Regions from separate parts of the Homo sapiens genome. Here region 1 is linked to region 2. Evidence: fine-mapped expression QTL. Tissue or cell type: whole blood. Region 2 holds a variant in brackets; the other region holds the start of a gene. Each region is shown on its reference strand, or each on the opposite one.

Region 1 (5,373 bases), not on the chromosome of region 2:
ACCTTTATAATTAGAGCTATCTCATTTAATTCTATATACATTTTTAATTTATCAAATTAGAAAATATTTCTTAAGAGCTCACCCTTGACGTTGGCAAGGAGGTGGTGAAACTAGCATATTGCTGGTGGCAGCACAAGTTAGTACAATCTTTCTGAGAAGCAAGTTGACAATGTGTTTCTAGACTTTATTAAAACTTGAAATAATGTTTTGTAAGAAAAAATAAATTAGGAAAAAAATTTAAGTATAAAGATAGTTAAGAGCATAGATTCTGGAGCCAAATTTCTTGGGTTTAAGTCCCAGCTCCACTACTCATTAGCAGTGTAATCTCAGGCAAGTCTCTGTGACTTGGTGTCTAAAATGAGGATAACAATAGCACTGATTTCACTAAGTTATTATGAAGATTCAGTGGATTATTATATGTTAAGTGCTTAACCCAATGCCTGGCACAATGTAAATACTATATGTAAGTGATATCTATTATTTTTATCTCAGTGTTATTTATAATAGCAAAATCTTTCTGACTATAGAAGAATGCTTAAGTACACTATGGTACACTTACAGTGGAATTTTTTTTTTTTTTTTTTTTTTTGAGATAGAGTCTCCCGCTGCGGCCCATGCTAGAGTGCAATGGCACGCTCTTGGCTCACTGCAACCTCTGCCTCCCGGGTTCAAGCGTTTCTCCTGCTCAGCCTCCCAAGTAGCTGGGATTACAGGCAGCCACCACCATGCCCAGCTGGTTTTTGTATTTTTAGTACAGATGGGGTTTCACCATGTTAGCCAGGCTGGTCTTGAACTTCTAGTCTCAGGTAATCCACCCACCTCCGCCTCCCAAAGTGCTGAGATTACAGGCGTGAGCCACTGCACCCGGCCACTTACAATGGAATATTGTACAGAATATTAAAAATTAGGCTTTAAAAGAATATTTAATTACATATAATGTAAAGTAAAAAGCACAGGAAGCAAGCCTGGGGAACATTGCAAGACCCTGTCTCTACAAAAAAAATAATTAACCAGGGGTAGTGGTGTGCACCTATAGTTGCAACTTCTCAGGAGGCTAAAGTAAGAGGTGAGAGGATCCCTTGAGCCCAGGAGTTTGAGGCTGCAGTGAGCAATTATCATGCCACTGCACTGCAGCCTGGGTGACAGAGAAAGACCCTGACTCAAAAATAAAAAAGAAAAGAAAACAACAACAACAACAACAAACAGTAAATGAATTGTGTATATTGTTCCATACCACTTATGTTGGCTAAAAGAGCACTTTTTACAAATATAGATGCCTAGGAAACAACTGGTAGGAATTACATCAAAATATTAACAAAGAATACAACTGGGTGTAGACTGGGGGGTTCTTTATACTTTACTGTATTTTCCAAAGTCTCTACAGCAGTGTTTCTCACACTTTAATAGGTAAACAAATCACCCAGTATGCTCGTTAAAATGCAGCTTCTGGGTTAGTAGGTGTGGGATTTTCAGATTCTGCATTTCTGATAGGTTCTCCTGTGATGCTGATGATATTGGCCCAAGGTCTACATTTTGAGTAGGAAGGTTTTAAAGCAGCATATCTGAACCAATATACTGGTTAACTGAGACCCACCCTCAGAGTTTCTGATTTCTTAAGTCTGGAGTAGGATCCTAGGATTTGCATTTCTAACTGTTTCCCAGGTGATGCTGACACTGCAGGTCTGGGGCCAGCACTCTGACAACCGGTGCTCTAGAATCTTTCTTTTTCTTAACATTAAGGAAGGGAGGGCACTAAAAAATATGTCAGGCTTCTCCATTGACTCCAAAATCAAATCCAAACTCTTCATCCAAAAGCCCCCATAATCCAACCCCGTCATTTCCCACTACTTCTCATTAGGCTATAAAATCAAACCACTATGCCCTAAACACACCTGAGATTTCAAACATCAGGACTTCCGCTGGATTTCCTCACTCCGGCTATGCCACTTCCTTCTACTTCTTCATGCCAAATCCTACCCAGCCTTCAAGGTCCTCAAATGCTATTTCCTCCATAAAGCCTCCTGATCTACCACTACTCAAAAAGCTACCTCTCCCTCCCCCCCTCAGGGCTGCACAGCACTTTTCGTTCCTCCCCAATGACAGGCACCATCTGTACCTGGTCCAGCGACTCTACCGGTGGGTGGTGTATCTTCGCCTGTAGACTGGGAGTTTCTTGAGGTCAGGGGAGTGACTTGCCTATCTTTGCCTCTTAGCCTTAGCAGATCCCCAGTAGACAGCTGACACTCAGAACCGACCAAAAGAAGGAAGGAATGGGACCTCCTGAGGAAGGGCACAGAACTGTCCTGTAAATGGAAACTAGACCGGACGCACGCCAAGCCGATGACCCACAGTAACAGGTGTTCTCCATCTCTGATGTCTGTGATTCATCCTGCACAGCTGCGCGCACACAGCACACGCATACACAGGCTCCCAGAATACGGCGCCCCACACGCTGTACCGCCCGTCGCGTTCTGGACGCCCCGGCGACCACACACACCGAGACACACCTCAGCGACAACCTGGATCCACAAAAAGGAGGCCCTGCCCCCTTAAAAAATACTAACACCTTACTGCAAAGAACTAGCAGCTACGGCTTGCGCCTGCGCCCCTTGTTCCCTGCCGCACCTTTTCTTGTAGTTAAGAAATCTATTTCTGCACGCATTTCGTCGCCGCCGCCCCCCATCCCTACACGCACGCACACACACACACACACACGCACACACACACACTCCCCTTCCCCTACACCTACCCCCCTCCCCCCACCTCCTTTCAGACTAGGCGCGCCTCGCAGAGCGGGATTGAATGGGAAAGAGCGGGGCCGTCTTTGTCATTAATCCTCCCCTCCTTCGGGCAAGCCAAGCTTCTTCCGGGTCAGCGACCATCCCCGCCACCCCACTCGGGGCCACGGTCCCCCCGCAGCGCTAGTCCCGGGCCCGCGAGCACCGGCCCCCGCCACCCGCAGGTTGCGGAGGGAGGAGGGCGGGAGCGGGCGGCGCGGAGCCGGGAGGCGGGGGAGGGGCCGGCGTCCGAGGCGGCGGCGGCGGCGGCTGGAGCAGCCTCTGGCAGCAGCGGGGAGAATGGGAGTGCGGGGCGCCAGACCGCCGCGGGGTGTCACGGCCGCCACGAAGCCTGCGAGGCGCGGGGCCGGCGCCCGCGGCTTTTAAACCCGGGAAGGCGCGGCGGCGGCGGCGGCGGCGGGCAGATCGCGGCGCGCACCAGGCGCCGGGGCGGCGGCCGAATGGAGAGAAAGGGCTCGGCGGCCGGGGCCAAGGGGAACCCGAGCCCGCCCGCGGCCGGAGAGGGGCAGCGGCCACCGCCGCCGCTGTGCGTCCCGGGCGGCGGCGGAGGAGCCCCAGCGAGGGGCCAGGTCGGGGCGGCGGCCGAGCCGGCCGAGCTCATCCGACGAGCGCACGAGTTCAAAAGCCAAGGGGCGCAGTGCTACAAGGACAAGAAATTCCGTGAAGCCATAGGCAAATACCACCGGGCGTTGCTGGAGCTGAAGGGGCTGCTGCCGCCCCCCGGGGAACGGGAGCGGGACTCGCGCCCGGCCTCCCCGGCTGGGGCCCTGAAGCCCGGCCGCCTCTCGGAGGAGCAGAGCAAGACGGTGGAAGCCATCGAGATCGACTGTTACAACAGCCTGGCAGGTGAGCCGCGCCGCGCCCCCCGCGCCGCGGTCCCCGTTCTTCGGCCCGGTCCCTCCGCGGACCACTGCGGCGCTCCCGCGGTGCAGATTCTCCTGCTGTGACTGTGTTGCTCTGGGGAGAACCCGGGAGGGAGGCGCTTTGGAAAAAGTGTGACTTTCAGGATTATGCCTTTCAAAGGCCATAATCATCTCTTGTCCCTTCGCTAGCATACATCGTAAATCTCACCTAGAAATGACTGGAAGGGGACCCAGCTGGCCTGGCTATGGCTGCTGCTGCTACTGCTCACCAGTGGACCTGGGTCCAAAATGCGGAAGCAGCGCCCGGGGTGGGCCCCCGCAGCCACCGCTAGCCCAGCTTTTTCCTGCGGGTGGGTCCCAAGGGAGGCCACGCACCTGTCTGCTCTCCTTAGGTAGCATGAGCACCAGGATTGGTCCTCGCCTTTTCCCCAACTAACCGCATCCCTGTAGGTAAGATCTTCCCCAAGTTTTTTGGCCCCAGTAGCAAAGGGGAGTTTGACACCATGCCTTCAGCATCTTGAGCAAAATGGATTCCAGAATGCCACTTTCTTCTCTCTGAGCTCTGCTGGGGCTCCCGGTTGCCAGGTGAAGATCTCTATCTCAAAAGAAGCTTGGTTCATGGTTGGGCTTGAACTATGCTGCATTCTCCCTCTCCTCCCTGCCCGTTTCTCACTATGTGTAGCATCAGTCCTCACGCCAGCTGGCTGCTAGGGGTGAAGGAAAAGGGGGCCCTACTCTTGGGCAAAGAAGGTGTACATTCCAACATTCCCTTTGGGGATAAGAGCCAAAATCAGGGATTTAAAAATTGTTTAATTTAGGCGCAGGAATATTTAAAGTCTCTTAAAAAAAGAAGAGTCTGGCTCTTGCTAGGGCCTTCCTGGGAGAAGGTGGGAGAGGTTGGCAAAGGCAACTTAAAAAGCATTCTCTCCTCTTCTCTTGCCCCATTTGGTGAGATTCTGGCATGGTCAACCTTCTCCGACCAAACAAAGGGCAGTTCCTCCTAGTTCCTGACATGTGAGGTTGCCTAAACTGTCTATGGACAGTTAGAGCAGGGTAGGGGTGGAAGAGTGACTGGGTGTGGCAGGGAATGGTGAATGTGTCTGAAGCCGAGGCAGTGGTGGGGGAGTAAAAATAAATACTGGCAATTCTGCTCGGTTCTTAAATGCAGATCTCTCTGTTCCCTCTGAGGTTTCTAGTACCAGCCTACCTCTGTCTTCCCAGAATGCCATGCCCAGTCTCATCTTTGATCGGGTAAAACCCAGGCTACGGAGGCACTTTGTAAATTGTAAAGTACTTTACAGACTTAAAGGATTAATAGAGTAGTAGTAGCAGCAGTTGGAGGAGTGGTGGTGCTAATAGCAATACTAGCAGTAATAGTAGCAGATAAAATTGTAGTACAGCAAAAATGGACTCTTTCAATCCATTATAAGATACAGCTTGAGTCCTTTAGTTCCTGTAAGTCTTTGGCATACTGTCTGCTGCCCCATGAATAGTTAAAGGGCAGAGCAGCCATGGGTGGAGGACGAGGCACTGTGGATTGCTAATGCGGTGACTTTGGAGTGGTAATGGAATCTTATATTTAGTCAGTATTATCCATGGACATTCTAGGGCTGCCAACCAGTGGCTAGCACTGCCTGCCCTCCACCCCAGACGTGGTTACTTTTCCATGGTGAAATCAAAGATGTGTCCTTGGTCAGGCCAGCCCAGTCAGG
Region 2 (5,373 bases):
GAAGGCTCCTGCCTGAAGTGATCTTGGGAGCAGACCTTGTAGGCCCCAGTCCAGCATTCAGATGACTGCAGCCCCTGCCAACATTTGACAGCTGCCTCCACAACACTGGGGGAGATACTGCCCAGAATTTGAGGAGTCTGCTGACAACCTCTGGGAATACAGAATGAGTTAAACTTTTCAGCCACAAACTTTGAGGTCTGAGGGGTGTCTGCATTTGTTCTGTTGGCCATAAAACCCTACATCCCAAGTGACTCTGCTGCAGTTCCATAAATTACTTTTCATCCCTACCCCTTGCCCCCTTCTGAAACCTTATTTCCCACGGTAAATACTTTGGTTATCTATATATAAAGTGCCTGTTCCCCACCTCTTGACATGTCTTCTCTCTTTGGCAGCTCCAGGCAGCAGAAGGCTCAGACCAGAGCAGACCCAGGTCTCCTGAGTCACCAAGACAGAGAGCTTATCCTGGAGGAACACATGATGGTGTGCTGCCCTCTACAAAACCAGGCTTGTGGGCTCACTAGTTCAAGAAGGCAGGACTGAAAAATGGAAACACCGTGGCTCCTAATTATCTAGACTGCCTCATCTCCTACCAGCCAGCAAAAATGATGTAGCCTCTGAGAATATTTACATCACTCATTTGTATGCCTTATCTTTGGTACAGGGAGTTGGGTGAACAGGAGAAAAAGCCAAAAAAGTTATAGAGGTTACAACATGAATCTTTAATCATAAGGGATTGTTCCATCAGGCTAATTTATAAAAAATAGCTCTACTGTTATTATAAAACTGAAAGATACTTTGTTACAAAGTAAAATACATAAAAGTACAACATATGTATTATACATTCAGAATCCCACCACTAGAGATAAGTAGTTATATGTCCTCTCCCACATCTTTTTTTCTCTGTTGCTCTAAACATACACACAGAAAAACATACTAACAAAATGGGGTCATGCTATAATTGTTGTTCTAAAACTCTCCTGGTTCACTAAATACTTCATGAGCAACCTGCATTGTCATTATCTGTGTGCCTGAAGATTTCTAGTGGCTTTCCATTGCATACATATGCCTGAACTTATCTAAAAAATTTCCTACCAATGGAAACTGGAATATTAACATTTGCTATTTTAAAAATGTTTTAAATTTAAAAACTCCACCTTCTGCATGCGTTTTTGCCCAAGTGGGCAACTATCTCCCAAGTATCAATTACTACATATTTACTGCCACTTCAAAGGTTATAGAAATTGAATTGATACGTTAATGAATTCTTTTGAAAACAATGCACGGATTTTCTCTCTCACCAATAAGTACATAAGACTTATTACGTCCATTTTTGCACTGCTATAAAGAACTACCTGAGACTAGGTAATTTGCAAAGGAAAGAGGTTTAACTCACACACAGTTCCACATGGCTGGGGAGGCCTCCGAAAACTTAGTCATGGCAGAACGCAAAAGAGAAATAAGGACCTTCTTCACAAGGGGACAGGAGAGAGACAGCGAGGAAGGGCTACACCTTAAAACCATCAGCTCTCATGAGAACTCACTATCATGAGAACAGCAAGGGAGAAATCTGCCCTCGTGATCCAATCATCTCCCACCAAGGCCCTCCTCTGACACGTGGGGATTAAAATTGAGATGAGATTTGGGTGGGGACAAGAGCCAAACCATATCAGACTGTTTCTACAACCCCCCCCCCCGCCCCCACTGATGGGGGATTTGATGATTCTATTTTAATACTGCTAACCTGCAGGGTGAAATAGCATTTGTGATTTTTAAGATACCTAATATTTGATATGTTAAACTATGAAATGAACTGGAGCAAAACCATTATATTCATGACAGCAATAAAACAAATTCCTAGAAATATGCTTAAGATGACTCAGAACCTATTTTTAACCATCTCTAAGAAATATTACTGAGGGACCATATGAAATACTATCAGTGGTAAAAAAAAAGTCATTTTTTTAAAGTGAAAAAAAATCAGCATTTCAAAGACGCCACATTCTTTCAAAATTAACCTATAAATTCAATGCAATGCCAATTAATAAATTTATTTAATTAATAATTCAATGCAATGCCAATCAGATTTTGCTTTTTGAACCTGGAAAGAAGACATATTTCTGTAGTGTACTACAACTCCTCTGAAAGCTGTAAAGCTTACCTGCAAGATAAAACAGTCATAAAAACATGATAAAAATGTGAGACACACACATCACCCAGATCTGCCAAGAGAACTTTGTTCCTGGTCTTCTCAGAGTGACTTGTTTCAATAAATGTTAATGTTATCTTTTTGTTTTTATAAAGCGATCTTTAAAAAGATATGTACCAAACTGGTTTTAGAAAGGTGGAAACTTGTTTCTACACTGTCCCATTGGTAGCTATCAACCCACACAAAGAATCTATGTCCATAATTAGCACCTTGGAAACATTCTCACCACTTGTACATTGTAAAAGCTCCCTCCCAGGCAGATTCTGATGGAAGTGAGGATTATTACTGAAACCACTGCTGCACTGTTTCTTTAAAGCCTACTCCGCTGCACAACAGACTCTTAAAGACTGAAGTTTGTAACTGAAGTGCTAACCTATTTATCACACATCCAGGTGTTCCCTTCCTATGCAGACTAGAAAATGTAAAATCATCAGTTTCTCCTATAGCCCTCCTACATGTCACTTTCCTATGGTTTTTCTCCTGTGTTGGCTCTCAGATGGATAGAAAGCTCTGAGTCCCAGATGGAATCCTCTATGTACATCTACTTATAAGGGTTCTCGCCTAAATGCACTCTTTGGTGGTTCCGCAGACCTGAGGTATAACTGAAGCCTTTCCCACACACACCACACGTATAGGGCTTCTCTCCAGTGTGGACTCTCTGATGAACATGAAGACAGGAGTTGCGGCCAAAGCCCTTCCCACACTCCTCACATTTATAGGGTTTCTCACCAGTGTGGACCCTCTGATGACCTTGAAGATGTGAGCTCTGACTATAGCCCTTCCCACACACGTGGCATCTGTATGGCTTCTCGCCAGTGTGCACTCTCTTATGACTAAGGAGACCTGAGCCATATCTGAAACCCTTCCCACATTCACAACAAGTGTAGGGTTTCTCTCCTGTGTGCAACCTCTGGTGGGTGCGAAGATTAGAGCCATAACTGAATCCCTTGCCACACTGATCACACGTATAGGGCTTTTTTCCCGTGTGGACTCGCTGATGTTTGTGAAGGCTTGATGTGCACCTAAAGCCCTTTC[C/T]GCACTCTTGGCATCTGTAAGGTTTCTCGCCTGTGTGGACTCTCTGGTGAATGAGAAGCCCTGAGCTGTAACTGAAGCCTTTGCCACACTCAGCACATTTATAGGGTTTCTCTCCAGTGTGGACCCTCTGATGGATAAGGAGGTCGGAGCTGTAGATGAAACCCTTCCCACACACGTCACACACGTAGGGCCTCTCTCCCGTGTGGACCCTCTGGTGGCTGTGAAGGTCTGAATTCCGCCGGAAGCCCTTCCCACACTCACTGCATTTATAGGGTTTCTCTCCTGTGTGGACCCTCTGATGGATGTGGAGGTCGGAGCTCCGGCCAAAGCTCTTCCCGCACTCGCATTTGTAGGGTTTCTCTCCTGTGTGCAGTCTCTGATGCATGAGAAGCCCTGAGCTGTAACTGAAACTCTTACCACACACGTTACATTTGTACAGATGCTGCCCCATGTGAACTCTCTGGTGAGCTTGAAGGTACGAGTTGTGACTGAAACCTTTGCCACACTTGTCACACTGGTAGGGCCTCTCGCCGGTGTGTGTCTTCTGATGACTGCTGAGGTGGGAGCTGCAGCTGAATCCCTTTCCACACTCGCCACAGCTGTAGGGCTTTTCTCCAGGGTGAATGTGCTGGTGTTTGTGCAGTGCAGACTTGGCACAGAAGCCTTTGCCACACTCGCTGCAGGTGTAGGGCTTCTCCCCTGTGTGCAGCCTCTGATGGACTTGAAGCACTGAGCTGTAACTGAAGCCCTTCCCACACTCGCTGCATTTATATGGTTTCTCTCCAGTGTGGACCCTCTGATGGACAAGCAGGTTTGAACTTCGACCAAATGCCTTCCCACACTCCTCACATTTATAGGGTCTCCTTCCTGTGTGCACCCCTTGATGAATAAGAAGAACCGATTTATACCTGAACCCCTTTCCACAGACATCACATCTATAGGGCATGTCTCCCACAGGGGCTCTGGGGTGGTTACGTATGTGCGTGTTCTGTCTGACGCCCCGACCACGCTCAAGACTCTTAACAGATTTCTCTCCTGTGGGAACTCTTTGATGTCTGTTAAGATGGGCACTGTGCCTCAAGCCCTCACTAAACTCATCATATTGACAGAGTTTCTCTTTCAAAGGTACTCTTGGATGCGGGGGAAGGTCTGCATCGTCCCTGAAGCCATTTCTGTATTCGTTACTTTTCAAGCCATTCTCTCCAGGGTTAATGCGATGAAGTACAGAGTTTTTAATGCAGTCTTTTCTGCATTTATTGCAACCACACGGCTTGTCTATTTCAGGGAATCTGTGATCAACATGACAAGATATCCAGCAAAAGCTGTCATCATCCCAGTTACATTTATATACTGTGTCTTCTGTGTCGAGATTTTTACATCTTTCTTGAACATCCCCTAACTGGTTCACAAACGCTTTTGCCCAAGATCCTTGAATGGGGATTGGTCTTATAGCTCTCCAGGCTGGAAACTGTTGATTTTCTAGACCGATAAGCCCATCCCCTTGTAGACTGTCCAGGAAATTCTCAATTGGAAAACACGGCGTAGATGCTCCTTCCCACCCTTGATGGGGAGCAGCATCTTCTGAGAACTGGAAGTCTTTTCCTTGCAGATTTACTCTACAGTCTTGGCTCCCAGGTAATTCACCTGCCACCTCTTCCCAGATTTTGCATGAGGAGAGCTCTTTGTGTGAAAAGAACCTTAATTCTTCATCTTGAATATACTCCGTATCCTTTCCATTCTTGTCTCCTATGAGGTTAAAGACAATTCAGAGATGAGAACTAGTAAAAGACTGGCTCAGGGACATCAGACTTTCAGACTTGAACTAATAATAGCCTAGAGAAAAATTAGGCTTTATGTATCATAACTATTAGAGCACTTATGTTTATGACAAGAGGAGGCTCCTATTAATAAGTTTTGAAGCTAAATGCTAGTATGATCCTATTAGTACCAAACTATGTCTCATCATAGAATTGCCAGGCAAAAAAAGAATTTCGGAACAGATTTTTATAGAGAAAGTTCACTTCTTCGCTTAATAATGCTGTTATAACTAATAATATCTGACACTATTGTAACACTTCCTATCTGCCAATGATGTACACATATTAACTGACTTAAACCTCAGAATAATACTG

What was found. PIP is the estimated chance that this variant, and not a neighbour inherited with it, causes the effect.
Region 1: TTC9 starts here. The variant in region 2 is fine-mapped to the expression of TTC9 in whole blood (TOPMed, PIP above 0.99).

Annotation. Positions count from the first base shown.
Region 1 is chr14:70,638,892-70,644,264 of GRCh38, forward strand. It overlaps TTC9 (tetratricopeptide repeat domain 9), which reads left to right and starts at 3,025. Exons shown (of 3, transcript NM_015351.2): 1 at 3,025-3,644. The coding sequence starts at 3,239. TTC9-DT (TTC9 divergent transcript) reads right to left here and starts at 2,407. Exons shown (of 3, transcript NR_110071.1): 1 at 2,117-2,407. RefSeq lists enhancers at 1,920-2,099, 2,200-2,459 and silencers at 2,930-3,079, 3,300-3,489, 3,510-3,579.
Region 2 is chr19:44,425,556-44,430,928 of GRCh38, forward strand. It overlaps ZNF229 (zinc finger protein 229), which reads right to left. Exons shown (of 6, transcript NM_014518.4): 6 at 699-4,987. The coding sequence ends at 2,748. Among named protein-coding and RNA genes, the nearest start is that of ZNF229, 20 kb to the right of the region's middle. The variant C/T (reference allele first, on the strand shown) is at 3,242.